4 separate regions of the Homo sapiens genome follow, and regions 1, 3 and 4 are each reported to be linked to region 2. Evidence: microRNA targets listed by miRTarBase, many of them from high-throughput screens and not tested one by one. Region 2 holds a microRNA gene; each other region holds the end of a gene's coding sequence.

What was found. Region 2 holds the annotated microRNA hsa-miR-4503 (UUUAAGCAGGAAAUAGAAUUUA, at 2,077-2,098, shown strand). A microRNA usually pairs through its seed, bases 2 to 8, with sites in the 3' UTR of a target mRNA and lowers its output. Matches are read on the target gene's strand: a 7mer-m8 pairs with bases 2 to 8, a 7mer-A1 pairs with bases 2 to 7 and ends in A, and an 8mer does both.
Region 1: miRTarBase lists CHD1 as a target of hsa-miR-4503. Seed matches in the 3' UTR shown: 7mer-m8 at 2,337-2,343.
Region 3: miRTarBase lists CAPS2 as a target of hsa-miR-4503. Seed matches in the 3' UTR shown: 7mer-m8 at 2,685-2,691, 8mer at 3,363-3,370 and 7mer-A1 at 3,382-3,388.
Region 4: the mRNA of CLTB is a reported target of hsa-miR-4503. Seed matches in the 3' UTR shown: 7mer-A1 at 3,539-3,545.

The regions. Positions count from the first base shown.
Region 1 is chr5:98,852,531-98,856,756 of GRCh38, reverse strand. It overlaps CHD1 (chromodomain helicase DNA binding protein 1), which reads left to right. Exons shown (of 36, transcript NM_001270.4): 36 at 32-2,772. The coding sequence ends at 377. Among named protein-coding and RNA genes, the nearest start is that of CHD1-DT, 74 kb to the left of the region's middle.
Region 2 is chr14:36,950,230-36,954,455 of GRCh38, reverse strand. It overlaps MIR4503 (microRNA 4503), which reads left to right and starts at 2,065; the gene lies at 2,065-2,147. The region is part of intron 1 of SLC25A21 (solute carrier family 25 member 21); the gene reads left to right.
Region 3 is chr12:75,275,357-75,279,582 of GRCh38, reverse strand. CAPS2 (calcyphosine 2) reads left to right here. Exons shown (of 17, transcript NM_001355024.4): 17 at 518-3,604. The coding sequence ends at 693. The region is part of intron 2 of CAPS2-AS1 (CAPS2 antisense RNA 1); the gene reads right to left. Among named protein-coding and RNA genes, the nearest start is that of CAPS2-AS1, 19 kb to the right of the region's middle.
Region 4 is chr5:176,388,977-176,392,976 of GRCh38, forward strand. CLTB (clathrin light chain B) reads right to left here. Exons shown (of 6, transcript NM_007097.5): 6 at 3,525-3,969. The coding sequence ends at 3,798. It overlaps HIGD2A (HIG1 hypoxia inducible domain family member 2A), which reads left to right. Exons shown (of 2, transcript NM_138820.4): 2 at 355-785. The coding sequence ends at 521. It also overlaps a transcript of ARL10 not described here. Among named protein-coding and RNA genes, the nearest start is that of HIGD2A, 2.2 kb to the left of the region's middle. RefSeq lists enhancers at 1-460, 1-52, 253-472, 294-977.

The DNA.
Region 1 (4,226 bases), not on the chromosome of region 2:
TTGTCTAAAATTCTCAATTTTTCTTTATTAGATATTACAGTGACAGAGAGAAACACAGAAAACTGGATGATCACAGGAGTAGAGATCACAGGTCAAATTTGGAAGGAAGTTTAAAAGATAGATCTCATTCTGATCATCGTTCTCACTCAGATCATCGGTTACATTCAGACCACCGGTCAAGTTCTGAATATACGCACCATAAATCTTCCAGGGATTATAGGTATCACTCAGACTGGCAAATGGACCACAGAGCTTCCAGCAGTGGCCCTAGGTCACCACTAGATCAGAGATCTCCTTATGGCTCCAGATCTCCATTTGAACATTCAGTTGAACACAAAAGTACACCGGAGCATACCTGGAGTAGTCGGAAAACATAACAAAAACTGATACTTCGTCTTTCTGGACTTTTCTTTTAGCCATATATCATAAACCAACACAGTAATTGCCTTACATGACTTGAAAGATATAAACAGATCTTCTATCAGTAGCAGTATTGTTACTTCTTTCCAGGATGCAAGGTCTATTATCCCAACAGAAGAGAAAATATTTTTATATTTAAGGATTATGCTGCACTGTACTACAAAATTGTAGTACTTTTTTTTGTTTTCTTTTTTAAAGAAATGGAAAATGTTTACTATTACAGGGACCTCAACACTGCCCTCCCATACAGGCTGGATAAAACTGTTTTTAAGTCAGTGATTTTAGACTGACCTCCATTTAAATTATGTTTATATATGAACTTTACTCTGACCTGTGATCATGTTTCAGGAAGGAATGAAAGAGAGTTCTTTCTTAATAAAGAAAAACACTCAAGGACTTTGTTCATTTCCAAAGCTACTTGTTTACATTGTACACTGCGACCACCTTGCCGCTTTTCATCACAAGCTTGAATATTTAAATTCTGTACTTATATCTGTAAAATAGCCAGGAATTTCCTGTTTGTGATCTATTATGCCTTTTTACAAAAAAAATGGCTGTAAATTATTGTAAATATTAAAGGAACTTTCCTTACTTCCTTCCCTTTCTCAGGCTTTTTTTGACTGTTCCTTTCCCTACCAACTCAGGCCTTCTTATTAAAAAAAAAAAAATCAGTGTAATAACACTTTTTAATGATTTGTCTTGATGGAATCATTGTTTAGAATGTAAAAATGGGGAAAGGGGCCACTTAATTCCATTAGTCCTCTTTTTATACTGAATATTTTATTAGATACATGTTATTCCCTTTTTTTTCCTTTTTTAGTCAATATTGTGTTTGTAGTTTTAAAAAATGGCGAGATATGTAAAATCTAAACTGCATGCTCTGGAAACACTTTTTTCAGATGCATCTGGTTTAAAAGGGTAGGTGTATAAACACTTTTCAGAATCCAAAACGGCCAAAAGTTATTGTAAATCCGTTTGTTTTCCCGTTTTATGTGGGCAATAATGTCAAATGTGCTATGCAGCCAGGTTAACATTTTAGATAAACTTGATTGACTTTTAATATAAACTGTTACAATGCACACTGATTGTATATAAAAACGTTATATATGACAAATTAAATTTAAGAAAAAGGATATGTGGGCTCCTGTAATTTTCTGCTGCATTCTTACTCCCTCAAGCACTTACCACCACCACCACCGCCCCCTACCCCCGTTTTTAAGTAACATTTTGCTGCCAGAAAAAGTATTTTGGTAAGCAGTTGAATATTTGTAATGTGTAGCATTACAACTAAATCTGTTTTGGAGACTATGAATATTCCTATGAAGTAAAACTTAGGTCATAGACATTTTTGTTGGCCCCTTTTGGCTTCCTACAGATATTATTATGGGATGCTTTATATTTATTCACAGATTTTTATTTTGTTTTATATTCAGCGGGAAGTTTTTAAGTCATGTGGCACACATTCTTGCATGTATGCTTTGATGTAACAAATTTGAATCTTTGACGAATATAAGTATGTGGACATAATTTCTATAGTATTGCTATGTGTGTCACTGTTAATTAGCTGTGGGAGCAACCTACAGATATTTGTCCATAGGTGTATTTTTTAATATTTTCCTTTGTCCAATTAGGTTTATGTGTATAAAAGCTTGTGGGTTTTTTTGCTTTTTGTTTTGTTTTTTGCAGTAATTTCTCTTTCTGATACAGTTACCCTGAAGAATAATAATGCTTTGTTTCTTTTCTGGTATATGAGAGAACATGTGAGGGAGTAGCTCAGTTTTTTAAACATCTAATTTATAATTAAATATAAAAGTAATGAAGGTAGTCCTGGCACACATTTTTGAAACTTTTATCACTTTTCTCTACATTTAGTATGACTATTTTATTCCACAAGATAGCATTTGACTAATTCATAATGCTTAAGTCATAAGATGGTGGCTGGCATTTTTTAATTTATTACTAAAAGCTAAGATATTTGCATTATATTGTGCAAATTTCACAGAACAATGTTGCATTTTCTGAGATAAGGCTCTAATTTTTTAAATAGTGCTACATTTAGTTGAAAGTTTCAGTCAGCTAGTTAGCTGAGTTGAATGAAAAATATAGAACTGTATGTACATTTATCAAATGATAAAATATGTTCATTTTTGTAAGAAATCAGAAAAATTAAGACGCAATGGTGAAGAACATTAGTACATAAATATAGCAGAACATTCTCCATAAAATATTCTGTTTTCATTCTGCTTTGTTATTTTTATCCAGTTATGTTTAATTTTTCAAGGGTGAGAGATTATGTATAGTACTGTACCAATTAACCTTCCACTTTTATACAATAAATAATTCTTACTAAAAGCAATAGCCTGTTTGCTTATAAAGATATTCTTTGTTTAGAGTATGTTAGAAATTAATTTTCAGACTATGGAAAATGAGTTTGAATAATTTTATTTTCAGAGTGAGTAGCTTAATGAGAACCTTTTTAATTTTATGTAATATAAATTATAATTTCTTTTTGTAGTTAATATGAAAAGGTTGAGTAGGTTATTCATTTTCATGAAGTTTATCAAGAATATGCTCTAGGAGTAAATGGCCTGATTTTTACTCTACCCCATTACTATTTCTAACTAGAAAATAATCTTTGCACCCCAAATTAGCTGTCATAGCTTTATAAATACAAATAGCTTTATAAATACAACAGCTTAAAAAGGGATAGGGATTTGGAAGAGCAACTAATTTTTAAATACAGGATTTTAAAAAACGACTTTCAGCTTCATAGGAAACTGCAAAAATATTTTAAAATATTTCTGAGTTAATATGTAAAAGCACATTAATATAGATGCCTCTATTAAATATACATTAAATACTCAATTTGAAAATGCAGACAAAACTTAGATACATTTTAGCATTGTACAATAATTGTAGTGAATGGAGGATGTTATAGAGGACACAACTAGATAGTAATGCGACAAATATTTTGAGATAGTGTCAAAATGTGTGTGAAAATTTCTAAGATTCAATTATAGATATTTGGAAGAAAGTTTGAGATTATATTTTCTGACAATAACTAGTAATTGATTTTGTAGAACACTTCATGCTAATTTTCTTTAAAAAATTAGGACCTAATAGGTTGACTCCATTACAGAAATTCATTGAATTCTCATAGGAAGATCTAGGAATAGGAAATCTTAGCTATGGTGTAAAAGGATGAAAGATGAGATTACTGGGGAAAGTAGGATTAATGAAAAATGTTAAAAGGTTGTTCCAAGTACCTATACAAATTCTCTAATGGGGCTTCATGTGCTGGATTTTCTACACTAAAAGGCCACTAACCACTCTGCCCTTTAGCTTAAAAAAAAAATTACATCTATATTTGAAACAAAATTTGTAGTTCCAACTCCCAAATGAATGAAATTATTTTAATTCGATGTTCTACTCCACATTTGAGTCCTGATCTAAATATGAAACTAAAGAGGTATGAACAGTCTAAAACTCCTAATGATTCTATTAAATGAGCTAAGGATATTGTTTCCGTTGGTGATATGCAAACTTTATGTGACTGAAAAATGTGTGATGTATTATCATTTCATTATTGTTGACTAATATTAATTAGATTTCCAATCTAGAATGAGCTATGGAACTGCCACTAGTTACTTTTTTTTATTCCTTCTGTTTACTTTTCAAATCTTTGATTTGTCTCTAGTGTTCTGCAGGCTGACTATATTAAGTCCTGGTGTGGTGGTTTTATTTATTTATTTTTTTTAAATTTCTTTTTTTATCAGCTGTTGCCTCTTACCCACTTCTTTTTACTT
Region 2 (4,226 bases):
GGAAACCTAAGTTGGGGTCAGATCAGCAAGGACGTTGGGAAGTCAAGCTAGAGATTTCAGGCCTTCCTCTGTAGTTAGTAAGGAGAAATGGAAAGTCTTTAGCAGACGAGGATTATGCTAAGGAGGACTTCTCTAGGATGGGGGGAGGATAAAGACAACAAAGGTGGAGAGGCCAGTTGGGAGGTCCTGATGAGAGGGAGAGAATTCCGTAAAAGGGTGTGGAGAAGAAACATGAGGCAGAAATTACAAAGGACAATCAGAGACATTTTTTACTGGGGATGATGCATCAAGATTGACTTTCAGGTTTCAGCTGAGTGACTATGATAATTAATAAAAATGAGAGCAGGTTTAGAAGAGATGGGACGATCAGTTTGGTTGTGGCCACCAGTATGATAGTCTGGTTCTACAGAATCATGTTGTATTCACCTTTGACTCTCCAGTTTCTAATACATTGTAGATGTCAAATAAAGTCAGAATGTTATTGAAAAAACTAATTATTCCATGTGAAGATGTCCAGTAGGCAGTTGGAAAACCAAGCTATTTACAATTTTTTTCCCTTCAGAGTGTCTGGCACATAATATACACTTAAGCATGTATTAAATATCTAATAAATTTAATATTTCTTAACCACAAGAGTGTCTAAAATGCCTATGTGGTAAGTATTTTTGAAGAAATTCCTCTATTGTGATGATAATTTCCGAAGTGACAGATTTATACTCTGTCTTTCCAATTAATAGCAAATGTAGTATTTGAAATACTGTTTATGGTCTTATGCTGAAAAAATTTTTATGTTGAAAAACTTTGTGCCAAAATGAGTTTCTGCCAGTAAGGAACACTAACTTTTAGCCATTTGTTTGCGATATGAAATAAAGAAAATTATCTAAGAATTTTTACCTCTGTTCATTTTGTCATCTACTGAATGTTAACCTACATTGTGCAGGGATTCATATTTTTTTCAGTTTTGAGCTAACCACTTATAAACTTCACAATCGTGTTTTGTTCTGTTTTGACTTTTTCTTTGTATTTTGTATTTCTGACTATATATGCTATCTATATGACTATATAGTGAGATGTATGACTAAATTTTATTAATATCATCTGTTTATGCCATCTTTATGTTATAAACAATGTGAATCTTTTGGGCTACATAGAAAAATATTAGTATGAGCTTTGTTATTTAGCTCAGCCTGCCATTTACACAAAGCAGCCCAAAAATATCTTGCTATATTTATATGAAATTCAAAAGTTGATGATTAAGAAACATTTTAAAGTTCAAGCACATTGCTGATTAGTAATAGCTTATAGTACATCTTGTTATCGTTAACTAAATATTTTCTGATATTCAACCCTTGATAACCAAAAGCAGTGTTTAGACATGGACCATAATACAGGCAATTGATACCTCAAAACTAAATAGATAGAGGCAGAGGTAGAATAGCAAAATGATAAAAATCAAATTCCACAACACCACTGAAGGATCCAGAGAACACTGGATAGCCACAGCTTGATGATAGATGAGTAACCAGATCTAAATGCTCTGTAAATAGCCCGTCATTTGAGAGAAGTCTTCTTGAATATCCCGTTCTTCATTCCTGAAACATGACAACTTGGGAACCAAACCCAAGCTACAGAAGGTGTAGTCTTTTTGCCCAAGGCCACACCCTTGCTGACTGGATAAAAATGGGACCCTTGTATTTGGGGATTTATTGTCACAACGCTAAGGAATCACTGTTTTTGTTTTGTCTTGTTTTTACCCTTAGTTATTTTATCATGGCATTCCCAAGAATTGTCAGTTTAAACCCCAAGGATCTGGAAAATGGTGGGACTTTTTTTAAGTCTAGACTTATTCGGTCTACAGTTTGTTTCTAATACAATGTCATTTGTCCTTGCTCAGGATGAGACTCCTACATTTAGTGACCATTTACATGTGATAGTATAGTAATAAAATTAAGAAAAGAATTCTACCTTTTAAGAAACTTATCAACAGAAACAATAGACATGTAAATATAAGAATCTTTAAGAACAAGAAATAATAAATGACTTCCTCCCCACAAATTGAAATTGACAATGTAGATATTTAAGCAGGAAATAGAATTTACATATAAATTTCTATTTGTTTCTATTTCCTGCTTAAATATCTACATTGCCAAAAACCAAAGGAAAGAAGACAATCATTTATTTATTCTACTCTGATTCTTTCTTTTTTCTTTCTTTCTTTTCTTTTTGAGATGGAATCTTGCTCTATTGCCCAGGCTGGAGTGCAGTGGCGCAATCTCGGCTCACTGCACCTCCACCTCCTAGGCTCAGGTGATTCTCCTGCCTCAGCCTGTGAGTAGCTGGGATTACAGGCACGCACCACCATGCCCAGTTAATTTTGTATTTTTAGTAGAGATGGGGTTTCATCATGTTGGCCAGGCTGGTCTTGAACTTCTGACCTAAGTGATCTGCCCTCCTTGGCCTCCCAAAGTGCTGGGATTACAGGCATGAGCCACTGCACCCTGCCTGATTCTCTTTTATTGGCCCAAGTTTACTCTGCTTTCATTGTACCTGAAGCAAGACTACCTGAAGCATGGGCAAAAATGAAGTCATTGCAGGAGTCCTCTACTTGTAGTATATGTAACCAGCGAATCATTTTGTGGGCTTTCAGAATGCAGGGTCTTAGCAGTTGTGATCTCTGGATAACCTAGAAGCCTGTATTAGAAGCTCTGAATTGATTCTGTGTTGTTTGTGTGTAGAATTGTGCAATATTTCCACCAGCCAGGCCTAGACTGGATCATCTTAATAGTTATTGAATTGCTTTAGTACTATTATTTTAAATTATTTGTTGATGCTTTTGCAAAACAATTCTTTGCAAAAAAAAAATGCATACCTTGCACAAATATTTAGACATAAGGACTTTGTTGAATGGACGTGTCTGTGGATAAGAGAGGCCCTATTTGTTTTATTTGCTCCAGCAACATGGCTAGAATAATCAAGGTCTGTTCATTGGTTTGTAAGGGGTTTGGCTTTGAGATGCAGAGAGTTCAATAATTTAGAGACAGTGCTGTGGAAAAAATAGTGGAAATAATATAACTAGTCAGCAATCCCTGCATTTCCTGTTTATTATTATTTTTTAACATTCTCTTTCTATTTTAAGGTATTATGTTGCTTGAATCCTCTTTCTAAACAGAATTGATTGCTTTAAAGTAGGCTATTTGGTTATAGTTTTTTTTTTTTTTTTGTAATGGCAGTAGAGAAGGCAAACTATTGTTAAACTATTGCTCTTTTTGTGTATTTTTAAAGAAGTAGTGAGTAGTTTTTGGTTAGTGGTTTAGTTACCAAAACATTGTCTCTGAAACAGATAGAGAAGACTGCCTCTAGGGTATATGACAGATGGGGTTGACTTCAGGTTGCTTTGTTTTTCTTCTGGAGAGTTAGGGGGCAGAGAGGGCTCACTGTGGTTCCTGCAGCCATTGCTGAGGAAATGGAGGGTGTAGAGCCTTGAGCTCCTGGAGAGCAGTTGTGGAGGGGAGCCTAGAATATGCATTCCTTGCTGCAATTCCAGGTTTTTCCAGAAAATGAGAGAGAGGTAAGAGGTCCAGCTGGCTCATTTCTTCAGCTAGGTATTTGCAAAACAAATAATTTGAGTATTCCCGTGCAATAAGAATGTCAGTTGGATGTTAGGTTGTGGGGAAACAAGCTGCTGACTCTGTATCAAGTAATTGATTAGCTTCATACAAGAAACTTACTCAGTATTTCCCACACTGCCCTTGAACTAGAATGCAAATTCCCAGTAGCCAGGGGCTATGTCTGTTCACCGTTTGCATCTCCTAAACATAATAGGAATTGTGAATTCATTTGCTAGGGCTGCCATAACAATATACCACAGACTGGGTGGCTTAAATAACAGAAATTTATTTTCTCTTAGTTCTAGAGGCCAAAAATCCAGGATCAAGGTGCCGGCAGGTTGGTTGCTGGTGGGACCTTTCTTCCTGGCTTGCAGATGGCAACTTTCTTGCTATGTTCTCATGTGACCTTCAGGAAGAAATATATCTTCGGTATTTCTTCCTCTTCTTATAAAGATATTAGTCCTATTGGATGAAGGTCCTTCTTACGACCCCATTTAATCTTAATTACCACCTTAACAGCCCTATCTCCAAATGTAGTCACATTAGGATTAGGATTTTAACCTATGAATTGGGGGGCACAGTTCAATCCATAACAAGCTAATCAAAGTTTATTGGATA
Region 3 (4,226 bases), not on the chromosome of region 2:
CTCTGGTTTGAGGGAAAAAAAATTAACTCTCACCTTAATTTTGTCCACCCCATTAGACAAATGGTTTGAGTAGTATTCCCATCTAAGCCTGTTATTTAAAGCATAACCTGACTTTAAAACGTTTTAGAGGGTCACATAGAAATTTTTGACCCTTTTTCTACTATTATATATGGGCCTCTGTTTATTCTCTTTTCAGTGTTATCTGACCAGTCACTATAGCTTCCTTTCATCTTTCAATTCCTCTGTTCTTTTTAAAAATTTATGATCAAAAAAACTGTGTTCTGTGCTGGGATCCTGGAGATAGATCAGTGCAGGAGAGCAGGGGGCAGGGAAGGAGTGGCAAATCGAATGAGATGAAATAATTCCAGTTCATGTGTAAATAAATTGGCTGGTAGTTTGACAAAAGATTTCAAATTGTTGAAAGTATTTCATAAGATGATTAAGTATTCCTTTATCATCATCAGTCATTTCACTGAACTTTTCAGGAAACTGTTTCATACTCAGTACTATTTTATAGGCCATTCAACAGAGGAAGAAATCAAATCATCCTTTCTAGAAACATTAAAAGTTGCCTGCAGCAAGTCTGATGAAGTGTCATATGGTGAATTTGAAGATTACTATGAAGGTTTAAGTATAGGAATAGTAGATGATGAAGACTTTGTTAACATCTTACGTACTCCATGGGGGATTTAGTCTTTAATAATACATATGTCATCAACACTAAGCATTTTATTGGAGAGATGATATCAATGTAAAGGATGATCAAACACTGGAATATATTTTCCTAGGACTTCCTTTATTCTGGTTTCTTGTTTGTTTGTTTTGTTTTGTTTTGTTTTCTCAAAAATGTTGAATTTGGAAAGAGAACTATCCAGAAAGATAGATGTAGGGGTGTGTTAGTGTTTGTGCATGTGTATGCCTGTTCACATGTCCTTACATTTGTAAAGATATCTTTTTGGTTTATTACTTATCTTGCGTATATTTTAGAGGTCATTTTTTATTAACTTCAGTAGGAAAGTTACATCTGCATCAAACAATATGGCAACATCTATTTATTAACCAAGTTTCCTGTCCTTTCACATTGTTTTTTGCTACCTCTTCCTCAGAATATATTTGCCACCATGGTCAATTTGATAAATTAGAATTGGGCCCAAAGCCAGTGAGATAATTCAATGTGTTTTTAACACATGAAAATATTAAAGGATATGCAAGAGAAATTTTTCAAGCAGTGTGATTATAGATGTTTTCTGTATATAGAATATTTCAAATGATGGAGGTTTACCCCATGATGCTCATTTAAATACTGACTTGTCTTTTAAATCTGTCTTCTAAATTATGTACTGTTGTTGGTTAAATAGAGCACAATGTAGTTATTCTAATGCCCAGTTGTATTTGTTCTTTTATTCTGCTTTTTAACTGTAATCCTTTTTACCAGCATACGATTGTTATTGAGCAATATGAAAGGGAAATGTTCTTTATTAAAATCAATACATTATCTTATTAAACAAAGATCCTAAAAGTATATTGTTGCATATATGAATCCAAGGAATAGTTCAGTAATTATTGCCTAAAATGTGAAAGCATATTTTGTATCCTAAAATGAATGTATGATATTCTAAACATCTGTTTTAGTATAACAAACAATTGAAACATTTCCTTCTAAATATATGTTATTTAATAGTTACATGTATTATAATCATTCTTTCTAAATTCTTTGCTAGTCATTTCTTCCTGGGAATACAGAGAAAAGAGACAACTTTATGAGTTGTTTTCAACTTCATAATTTTAAATTTTCTATGTTAATATAACATAAATTAGAAAAAATAAGTGATTCAAAATGAAAATATTTACTTTGTAGAATATGACTTTAGACATATCACTGTATCCATCTATACTTGGCAGCAACATGAGAAGTGTGATACATGTGAACCCAACAAATTCAAAGTTGCACTTTTCAAGATGTGAGAAGGTACTAAAACTTAATACTAAAACATGAGAGGGAAAATATGTGTAAACCTCTAGTGCTATTTTCACTGGCTAAATTCTTTATTTCTTGATTTTTTTAAAAATTAGGTTATTAAAATTAAAACAATATGCTAGAAGACATTTTGGCAGAAATAAGTCTATAACACTATTTTTGTCACATATCTTTTTCTTGGAAAAATTTATCCAACTATAGACATCTTAAACCCTACAAATTGTTCTTGTTAAAAATGACTAATACTGGGGGTGCTCAATATGCATATAGTGTTTTTCATTGATAATTTTTATTTAGTTCTTAAGAAACCTGTTCTTAATGTTGGCATGTCACATTTTTCTGTTACTATAATCAGAAAATGTATAGTCTGTTATACTGTAAAAAAAAAAAAAAAGGGAAGCTACTTTTGGAATGTAACGTGTTAACATGACAGCATACTCTTAGTATTAATCTTAATCTTCCTAACATAAGCATTCACATGTGGTTATTTGTAGGAAATAGCTCTATTTATGAGATTTTTTTTGGTGTATTTTGTTAGAATTGGTGACACAGTAAATCATTCTGCTTTTGGATTTGCCTGACTGCCTGCATTCTTCTTTGATTTTGGTATAGTAAAATCTGTTATTTAGTGTTAAACTTAATAAAAGAGCATTTAAGAGAAGTGACATTTCAAACATCCACAACACAACTGACTTTTGAAATCCTATGCTTAATAGTCTTTGTAATTCTAAAAGACCTTTTGAAAATGTTAAAATATTAAATTATATGTTGTAATGCTGTTACATGAATTTTATAGTTATGTATATTTTATAGATCTCTATGTCTTTGTAAGTTACTTGCTTGTATGCTATATAATTGCTTTCTCAGTTAACCATACTGTTTATGGAATTGTATATACTGATTTTTCTGTTTTTATATTTTAAAAATAAAAGTTGAGAATTTTAAGGAAAAACATTTTATTAAAAAGACAAGGTATATTATATAGGAATTTTAAGCTAACTTTTAATGGAAAGGACATACATATTTGCATGATGGAGCAATCACATTATAGTTAAACATGTATGTCCCTGTTTTAAATTTTATAGTATATAAATATATGTGCTAATGAACCAGCGACTCTGCATAGAGGCAGTCACTTAGAGTAATTAATAATCTTGATACAGCTGTAGATCATATCTTATTTTACATATTACTTTTGACTTCCAGTTTAAGTTGTTTGTTATCAAGTATTTCAGGAGAGAATTGTGTACATTAGGCTATGTTTACTGCAGATTATGTAACATGCTTTTATGAGATTATAGTTTGTAGTGCTTGCAAATATAAAACATGTACCCTGATAAACTATAATCACTACTAGGTTGACCAGCAAGGACAAACATGAAAATGCTTAAAAAAAAGAAAGCGCTTAAAACAAAGAAATAGAAGGTAATGGGCATATATAAAATAAGCCAAGCAAGAGAAGAGCAAAGACAATCTGCAGGGTGGACATGGATGTATTCGTTTCTGATCATGAGAAGAGGCTCTTGTCATACATATCGTTCCATTTTTATTTTAAAGTTCTATAAACTTCTGAGGTAAACTGATTTCTTGGATGTACTTAATAAAGAATAAATGTTTCATATTGGAGCCACTGTGCACTTAATCATTATTTATTCTGCTAGTCAGTTGTTTGTACAGGGTGAGTGGCACTACCCTTGCAGTAGGCCAAGGCTCTGAGATATTCTAGATTTTTCTCACACTCTCTATTATCCACTCAGTCTCAGGTGCTATTGGTTCTTGAATTTATCCATTGGTTGTTTAAATCTCTCTCGTTCACTGTTTTCAATGCTTATGCCTTAGTTCAAATTCTTACCACTTCTCATGTGTACTCCCCCTCATCAACTCTGCCTCCTTCTCAATCTTGTTTGAACCCATTGATGTTGGAATGCCCTTTTACAATATACATTACTTCCTGAATAAAATTCTTCCCTGATACCTCATATCTCTCAGAAAAGTTCAATCTCTGACCTTAACACATAAAACCTAAAAGATCTGGTTTTCTTAAGCTCATCTCCCTATACTCAGCTCACTCCCCACATTCTTCCAGTCATTCTGAACTATGTAACAGCCTTTAAAATGGATTGTGAGATTTCCAGCCTCTGCGCTTTCATATCTGTTCTGCTACTTTTATCCAAAATTATTTTCTGCACTTAGTGCATTAAATTAATTCATACTGATCTTCAAATACTACCTTAAGAATAATGTCTTC
Region 4 (4,000 bases), not on the chromosome of region 2:
AGTGGGTGCGGTAGGAACTGCACAAGGAGAGGACAGTGATGTCGGAGGGAAGGAAGTAGAGAAGGACCAGAGCGCTAGCGGGGAGCGGAAGGAGAGCGGACTAGAGAAGAGACGAGGGGGCGGGGCGGTGAGGGGCGAAACTGATTGGAGCGGGAGCAGCGGGTTTAGGGGGCGGGATTTGGGGCCTAAGATTGGGAGGACTCTGTAACTAGGAAGACCTCGACTCGACCTACCCTCGCCGCCCTCCCTCCGCTGTGATCCAGAGATCTTGGCTTTGGGGAAGCGAGACCCAAAGCGGGGAATGACCTGCGGGGCCCGACCTGCTGTTTCCCAGTTGCTTTGTCCCCTCCTCAGGTTGCCTGGCCACGGCGGCCGCCCTCACCTACGGCCTCTACTCCTTCCACCGGGGCAACAGCCAGCGCTCTCAGCTCATGATGCGCACCCGGATCGCCGCCCAGGGTTTCACGGTCGCAGCCATCTTGCTGGGTCTGGCTGTCACTGCTATGAAGTCTCGACCCTAAGCCCAGGGTCTGGCCTTGAAAGCTCCGCAGAAATGATTCCAAAACCCAGGGAGCAACCACTGGCCCTACCGTGGGACTTACTCCCTCCTCTCCTTTGAGAGGCCCATGTGTCGCTGGGGAGGAAGTGACCCTTTGTGTAACTGTAACCGAAAGTTTTTTCAAAAATCCTAGATGCTGTTGTTTGAATGTTACATACTTCTATTTGTGCCACATCTCCCCTCCACTCCCCTGCTTAATAAACTCTAAAAATCCACTTGTATTTAATTCAGTATCATCCCCATGGTTTTTGGTCTTTGATTTTGGAGGAAACGGACTTTGGAGTGGTGCTTAGAAATCGTGTAGTCTAGTGATTCCCGAACTTTCCTAGTAACAGCCACCCAGGGCACTTTGAAAGCAGAGATTTGGCCAGGCGCAGTGGCTCACACCTGTAATCCCAGCACTCTGGGAGGCCGAAGCGAGCGGATCACCTGAGGTCAAGAGTTCAAGACCAGCCTGACCAACATGGAGAAACCCCATCTCTACTAAAAATACAAAATTAGCTGGGCGTGGTGTTGCGTGCCTGTAATCCCAGCTACTCGCGAGGCTGAGGCAGGAGAATCACTTGAACCCGGGAGGCGGAGGTTGTGGTGAGCTGAGATCGCGCCATTGCACTTCAGCCTGGGCAACAAGAGCAAAACTCCATCTCAAAAAAAAAAAAAAAAAAAAAGAATCTCAAGGTCACTCCTTGAGATTCTAGTTCAGTGGGCCTAGAGTAATGCCATTTGAAAAATACTGGTCTAGCCAGCAGTTTTTCAGACTTTCAGTAGGACAACCTTCCTTCAGATGAGGCCTCCCATAGTCGGGTCAGAGGCAGAGGGTTCTGCCCTCCACTCCGCATAACCTCCTCACCCTGCTCCCACCTCCCTAGAGTCTATGGGGCTCCACTGATCTAGACCATCTAGTTCTTTTTTTGAGACGAGTCTCACTGTGTCAGCCAGGCTGGAGTGCAGTGGCAGAATCTCGGCTCACTGCAACCTCCGCCTCCCGGGCTCAAGCAATTTTCCTGCCTCAGCCTCCCGAGTAGCTGGGATTACAGGTGTGTGCCACCACGCCCGGCTAATTTTTGTATTTCGTATTTTTAGTAGAATACTAAAACAACATGGTTTCACCATGTTGGCCAGGCTGGTCTTGAACTCCTGACCTCAGGTAATCCCCCAACCTCGGCCTCCCAAAGTGCTGGGATTACAGACGTGAGCCACCACGCCCAGCCTAGACCATCTGGTTCTTGACACAGTATAGAAGAGGAAACAGGCTCAGAGAAGCAGTCTGGTACAGTGGGAAGAACACAGTCCCGAAGCTCTCCAGAGATTTGTGTACATAGTGTTTGAGGGTTCTGGAAGAGGAGGCTGAGGACCTGAGCACACTCTAGAAGAGAGGTGACCTGTTAGTTCCTCCTTCATGTAGTTTCAAACAAGTATTCCTGGTCTGTGGTCAGCGCTCCTCAAATGTTGGATTTGAGGACCTGCGCTCTTCCCGAGTGATTGTACTGTTTTCAACACCAGCTTCAAGCTGGCAGAAGGAAAAAGGGAGTGAAGACACACCCCTTCTTGAACCCCCCAACAGTCTAGATCTCAGTGGAGGGCTGTACTAGGGCCAGCTAAGTTGCTTGCCTCCACCATGTTCTCTCAGCTTTGAGGCAGAGATGATAGATGTAGAGCAGTGCACTGTGGTGACCCTTGGCATCCAGATACAAGACAAGGACATGGAGTGATGACCACTGTTTGTAAGTGTTGGTGTCATGGTGTCCCCCTCCAAAAATGTTGAAGTCCTTCTAGTGCCTTAGAATTTGACCTTAGGCTGGGTGCTATGGTTCATCCCTGTAATCCCAGCACTTTGGGAGGCCAAAGTGGATAAATTGCTTGAGCCCAGGAGTTTGCCCAGCCTGGGTGACATGGCAAAGCCCCGTCTCTACTAAAAATACAAAGATTAGCCAAATGTGGTGGCACGTGCCTGTAGTCCCAGCTACCTGAGAGGCTGAGGTGGAAGGATTGCCTGACCCAAGGAAGTTGAGGCTGCAGTGAGCTGAGATTGCACCACTGCACTCCAGCCTCAGTGATAAAGCGAGACCCTGTTTGAGAAAAAAAACAGAAAACGAAGATTTGGCCACAAAGACAGACATACCTAGAAGGCAATGTGCAAACAGCCACCTGATGGGGGCAGGATTGGGGTGATGCGTCTGCCAGCTAAGGGATGCCTGAGGCTACCAGAAGCCAGAAGCAGGTGGAACAGACCCTTCCCCAGCTCCTTCAGAGGGAGCATGGCTCTGCCACAGCTTGATTTCAGATTTCTGGCCTCAAGAACTATGAGACAATAAATTTCTGTTCTAAGCCAGCTAGTTCATGTACCTTCTTACAGAAGCCCTAGGAAGCTAATATTTACTGGCAATTACTCAAATCTTTTTAAACATCATGCAGGTCATGAACGTCCTGTTTGCAAACTCTGCTGAAGGGGAAGAAGGTGTGATCACTGGTTGTTTATCCAAAATCCAAGATGAGCCCAGTTGAAGGAGGAAGCGAAATACACAGGGCAGTGGACCCTCCACATCCAGAAGGTCCCAGCCAACCCTAAGGAGGGGAGTCTCATGGGTCTTCAGGGCTCTTACCCAGGCTTAGGAGGAAGCTACCACCAGGAACCTCTGGTCTCGCTTTTCCCTCCCACTACAAGCCACTTCCCCTCTGGGAACCTTGGTGTCCTTGGTTATATGGTGAGAATAACAGAATTTACCTCACAGACTTGTTAAAGGATCGAGGTTACAAAAGCATTCTGCGAGAGGCTGTCTTTCCTCCTGGAGGTGGAGGCAACAGACATGGAGAGCTTGGGGCTCCCACTTGGCTGGGAAATGGGGGAACATTCTCCCTTCTCTCAAGGTCATGAAGCTGGGAAAGTTCTAAGCACAAACCGAGCCCTGACACCAGTTGTGGCTTCCAGAGAAGTGAGAATGATAATAAATAAGTGTAAAAAGAGTCAACAACACACCCTTTAAGCCAAGAAAAAAAATACATCAGGAGGGACAGTCACAATTGAGTAGACTGAGAGGAGGCGTGAGGGGCTGGACCAGAGGGCCAGGAGGGAGCGAGGCGTGATGGGGTGAGGGCCCCCCTCCCAGCGCCTGGAGATGGGGAGGAGTGGAATAGGCTGTGGGTAGCAGCTGCTGCGAGTCTCCACCCCGACCAAAGCAGCTGCTCCTCCTGTGCCCAGGCCCAGCCCATGCTCTGTGGCCATGCACCTAGCAGGCACCTAGCGGGACAGTGGCGTCTGCTTCAGGGACATGAGCACCGAGCGCAGGCGGGACACATCTTTGCACTGCTTGCTGCTCTTGGGGTTGAAGTCACATAGCTGGGCCACCTTCTCCCACTCTGTGCCTGGGGTCTCCTCCTTGGATTCCTTCACGAAAGCCTCCTCGGATGCCCTGCGGGTGGAGATAGGACGGGCTTTTATAG